2 separate regions of the Homo sapiens genome follow, and region 1 is linked to region 2. Evidence: fine-mapped expression QTL. Tissue or cell type: whole blood. Region 2 holds a variant in brackets; the other region holds the start of a gene. All regions are shown on one strand. Distances are from middle to middle.

The links. PIP is the estimated chance that this variant, and not a neighbour inherited with it, causes the effect.
Region 1: LRRFIP1 starts here. The variant in region 2 is fine-mapped to the expression of LRRFIP1 in whole blood (TOPMed, PIP 0.94).

Annotation. Positions count from the first base shown.
Region 1 is chr2:237,626,137-237,628,818 of GRCh38, forward strand. LRRFIP1 (LRR binding FLII interacting protein 1) reads left to right here and starts at 1,451. Exons shown (of 24, transcript NM_001137550.2): 1 at 1,451-1,604. The coding sequence starts at 1,509.
Region 2 is chr2:237,759,627-237,762,308 of GRCh38, forward strand. It overlaps LRRFIP1 (LRR binding FLII interacting protein 1), which reads left to right. Exons shown (of 24, transcript NM_001137550.2): 19 at 438-579. Among named protein-coding and RNA genes, the nearest start is that of RBM44, 38 kb to the right of the region's middle. The variant T/C (reference allele first, on the strand shown) is at 1,462.

The DNA.
Region 1 (2,682 bases), 130 kb before region 2:
GTCACTTAAGGAGTATGGCCTCTGAAGTAATGTAAATATGGCCTGGAAGATTCAGTCAACACCTATTTCCTTAGTGCCTACAATGTGCAGGTGCAGTTTCTGCTCCCGGAGTTCAGTCATGAACAATGCCACAGTCAGCCCTGCCAACCCACCTGCGTCAGCTCAGGCACCCAGAGCAATGTCACCTGGATCTGCCCTCCCTCCCATGTCACTGGACTCGCTGTCTTTTCCCTGCAATGAAACCTCCAACAGCTTTCCCTGCCACTGTGGGTGGAAGGGCCCTCTTCCTCTTCCCACCTTCATACAGCTTCCAGGCCACCTCCTTAAGAATCCAAAGCAATCTGGTCACACCACTTGGTGGGAAATACACCGAAATGTTAACTGTCCTTATCACTGGGGGAAAAAAATCACAGGTGACTTCAGTACAGCCTCCTCTCCTCTACCATCACTACCCTCCCTCCCATCCTTCCCCAGGTCCAGCCACACTGAAGTTCTCCCCATACCCCAAACACACCAGTAACTTTCCCACCCGGTGCTCCTGCCGTGCCCTAGGCAGGGGCTTTTAACCCCTACCTAATCCTCCGATTTGCTTTACTTTTAAATCCACCTCTGGAGCATAGACTGTGAGCTTCAGAGAGCACAGGTAAGTTCATTACTTTTTCAACAACTAGGAGAGAGCTGCGACGCACCTGCCCCGATCCTAGAGGCTGGGGACCCACCAGAGAAGTGACAAGTCCTTGATCTCAGGGGGCAGACAGCGGGGAGAAGGATGGATGCTAGCACGGAGAACACGCGTGTAAAGACAGAAACGCACACATCCACACCATGCCGCTGTGAAGCCGGCGCCCAGGAGGCTGGCCAAGGTCACAGGAGCGGCGGTGGCGGGCGGATCCGAGCACCTCTCGGCCTGACCCCAGAGCCTAGCTCTCACCCCGGCGAGGGACTTCCACCCCGACTCACCGCGGAATGGGGAGCGCCAGGCTGAACCAAATCCTGTGCTCACCCCTCCGTGCAAACCCCTCAAGGCAACTCAGGCCTCTGAAAGCCTTCCTACCCCCCCGCTCTCCGCTCAGGTCCCCACTCAACCGGTGCCCACCGCCCTGGCGCGCGTCGCTCCGCGATTACCGGCCCGCCAAACAGTCCCCGCAAAGTCCACCCTCCGGGGCTCCCGGTCCCTCAGGTCCCGCGTGCCCGGCCCTGGGCATCCGCAGCGTCCCCGTGGTATCGGACCCCCATCGTCCCTGACACCTGGCGTCTCCGCCCCCCGCCCCCGTCCCCCGCCCCGCCGTCCCTGGCCCCTGCAGTCCCTGGCCCGCGCTGCGGACCTCCGGCTCTGGCTTCCCCCGGGTCCCCGCGGCCCCCGTCCCCCCGCGTCCCCGCGTCCCCGGCCCAGCGCCCGCTGACGCCATGACGCCGCGGCGGAGGGAGGGGCCGGGGCCGGGGCCGGGCCGGGGCGGCGCGAGCGGCTGGAGCAACGGGCCCCGCGGCAGCTGCGGGCGACGCGGTCGATGGACATGGGCACCCAGGGATCGGGGCGCAAGCGGCTCCCCAACCGGGAGCGGCTCACGGCGGAGGACGACGCGCTCAACCAGATCGCGCGGGAGGTGAGCGCTCCGGGAGGGCAGCCGGGGGGCGCCGGGCGGGCGCGGGGGCCGGACGGCTGTCAGGGTCTCTCCGGCGTCCGTCTGTCCCGCTGTGCGTCTGTGCCACTGCGCGTCCGGCTCCAGGCGGGTGGGCCGGGCAGGCGCGCGCCGGGGCGCTGATCCCCAGGCGCTGCGCCCCGGCCCCGATCTCCGAGGCCTGCGGACCCCGCACCCGTTCTCCAGCCCCGGGCCCAGCCCGCGACGCTGCGCGCCCTCCCCCACCCCGGCCACCGTCGGCCGCTGCGCCCTCGGGAGAGGAGCCGGGCGCCGCCAGCGCGCGAGGTGGCCCGGGCTGGCCGGGTGGGGGCGAGCGCCCCGCTTTGTTGTGCGGCATGGGAGGAGGCGGGGGCTTAGGCCCGACCTGGAGGCAGTGGACGGTCGCCGGAGGCCACATGGCCCTGCTGAAATGGCCGAGTCGCTCAGGTGACCATTTGTCATCCATCCATCGATGTCACTCAAGGTGCAGCTCAGAGATGAACTTGGGGATCACTGTGATTTTTCTTTCAGGACTGAGCCTGGAAACGGGTCCAGGCACACTGAAACGTCTTCATTAAAGTTTCCTGGACAGAGTTTATTGTAACTAAGATCATGTTTGGTGATGAACTTTACCTGTGACAAATTGAAGGCGCACTAGAATGGGTATTTGTACAAATGCCTTTTTTTTTTTCCTTCCGCAAGGATTCTACCTTAAGGCTAAAGAATGTACATGACATCCAGAAAGCCGTACAGGGACAGAGAGCAGCAGCTTGGGAAAAGGGGAGCCAATAGGTTGCGGCCCCAGGGGGACAAAGGAAGCTTAATTTTTGACTGTGTTCCCTTTGTACCATTTGAACTGTGTGCCAGGTGGGTGTATGAATGCAAAGAAAGTCTCTGCCTTGTAACCCGCCTTACAGGTTCTTTTCCGTGTTGGCTTTTCCACATGTGATTCTTCCCACAGGAAACACCTCCAAGCCATTTGGACTGTGGTGTCTGGCTGTATCCGTCAGATATTCTGGGGGATCTACTCTGTAACCAATCCTTAGGTGTTTGTAGTTGTAAA
Region 2 (2,682 bases):
TTAACATAAGTTTCGTGTGTCTCTTTCAGAACATGTATATATTTCTTTCTTTATCTGGTTTCTCTTTTTAAAGAATGCAATCAGGGTTTTGAAATGAAAGGTCACTTGGCAGTGACTTGCTTACTGCTCCACTTGGGGGCAGCCCACAGGCCACTACCTGTAGTTAAAAAGGATGCCTGGTGGAAGTAGCTTGTCACCAGCAAATGAAAGCATGGATTGGAACATCTGAGAAAGAAGTAGCCTTTGGAGGACGATATCCCAGATTTGTGTGTGTTGACCGAATATTTACGAGTGCTGCACCCTAGCATTTCTCTTGTCTCTGTGGAGTTACCCTGTACTTCAGGAAAAAATGGTTTTCTTTTTTATTATTGTATTAAAACAGAGTTTAACCTAATATCACTGAGTAAATATTACGATGAGCCTATTTTTGTTCCCAGAAACATGGAATAATCCTAAATTCAGAAATAGCTACCAATGGAGAGACTTCCGACACCCTCAATAATGTTGGATACCAAGGTCCTACCAAGATGACAAAAGAAGAGTTAAATGCCCTCAAGTCGACAGGGGATGGGACCCTAGGTAAGTATTTGCTTTCCTTCGGCTCCTCACACCTTTCCACTCAGCATTGGTTCACCCTCCATGCACTGCTGGGGTTGGAGCCACCGTCGCTGATGGGTTAACAGTCACCAGCATGCCATTTGTTTCATCACTTCATGGTAATTTCCTTGCCCACCCGGTGTGGTCACCCACGTGTTGTCTGGCATGCATCTCTGTGTAGTGCACCATCAATGGCTCAAGTGAACCTTTTCTTTTGCTGCTCAAAGCTACCAAGCAAGACTGTGAAGGCAAAAGGAAAACAGTCTCAAAATTAAGTAACAATGTGGAGAGTACTATTTGGTTTTCCTCAGACACATATATATCTGTACCTATAAAGTGTGGCTTTTTAAACCGATTCTATGACAGAATTATCAAAAGATCAGAATGGTTGAGGCCGTCAAGTCAGTTGGCCATATTTGCAAGCCAACATCGACATCCTGGGCAGCATTCAGCGCTTTGAGGGTACGGGGTGCCTGTGGACAGCAGGTCCGTCTGTGTTGCCTTTTTCAAGCCACCGCTCGAGGTGGGCAGGCGGCCGTGGTAGTGGGTGTGGCGGTGCTGAGAGTCTGAGTATGCCCACCTTTGTCAGAGGGGATCCTCCTTTGTATGCCACGTGTTTGCTTCTGAAAGAATATAAAACTGGGGAATCCAGTAGATCAGAGGAATATTTTATACCATTTTCAATGATCTGATTTGTCATAATTTGTCATAAGAGTTGGCTTTGGGAGAAACCTTCAGATTCTGGCGTGCAGCCTGAAGTTGCAGCGTGCAAGTGAGGCCTCATCTGTCACTGGTCACCCTCTGCGTTCCAGTGTTTTACAAAGAGGCTGGAATAAGGTCAGGGTCCGTGACTTTTCATTTTAA[T/C]GTAGAAGCTTTCATCTTATTTCTTTTTATTTATGGAAATGTAGACACCTCCAGGCCCCATCTTCTCAGGCCTCGCATTCCAGGGAGGTACCTCATTCATTATCTTTATGACTATTAAAGAAACACAGCTCTTTTCAATTGTGTAAAAAAAGTTGTGGCCTAGTGCAGTGGCTCACACTTCTAATCCCAGCGCTGCGGGTGGCCAAGGCTGGAGGATCACTTAAGACCAGGAATTCCAGGCCAGCCTGGCAACCTAGCAAGATTCCGTCTCTAGATAGGTATGTAGTATCTATATACCGTTGTTGAGAAAAGATAAATTAATCAATTTCCATCATACCTTTATATGAGCTACCCGAACAGCTAGGAATCTGATTACGCTGCTCTTACTCAAATACACATTTTATAAATCTTTGATAACCATTGTGAAATGTTGTAAGAACCAGAAATGTCAGTTTTGAAAGTGGCCTTCAAATGACTTTTGATCACATATTCCTTCAGCAAAGAATTGTAGGATCCAATATGTATGTTTATTTTAAATCTACATATGTATACTATTTCATTAATATAAAATGTACGTTATAAAATATATGCAAAGATATGCAAAGAAGTTTTAGAGTAAAACTCTAAATAGAATTCCTAATATTTCCCCCATTTTCCCTGGGATATGGGCACCCCACCATGGAGATCACTGGGCTATAAAATTATCTAGCTTTGACTTTCAGTAACATAGTACCATATCTAATCTGCTGGGGTTTTGTTTGGAGAGTCCAAAAATTCCAAAACAGTTTGATGTTCTTTAGACGATGAATAATTTATCATTTAATTTAGTGGTCATCTTGATCTTGAACATTTGCCTCCTGCTGGTCCTCTCTCCCTAGTCCCTTAGGGAATGGAGCAGAGGTATCAGGGCATGGACACAGGGTGTTTTCTCAGGAAAACAATAGTTGAGTGGCAGAAGATAGATTTCCTTTCATATGAGCTATTTCAAAAGCATCTTCCTTGAGACTGACCTTGAGGCTGCATTTCTAAAAGTGCACTGAATATTCTTTTTAAAAATTACTTGAAAGCTGCTTTTAGGGCTGTGTGACATGGAGTGCAGTTTGACAGCTGCAAAAGTACAAGTTGTCAAGTTGTTCATTGAGAAGTGAGAGTGGGGAATTGAACCTTCAGTCTGTTCCTAAACCCATCATTGTGGATTGTTTGGCTGCCTGATCCAGAGTT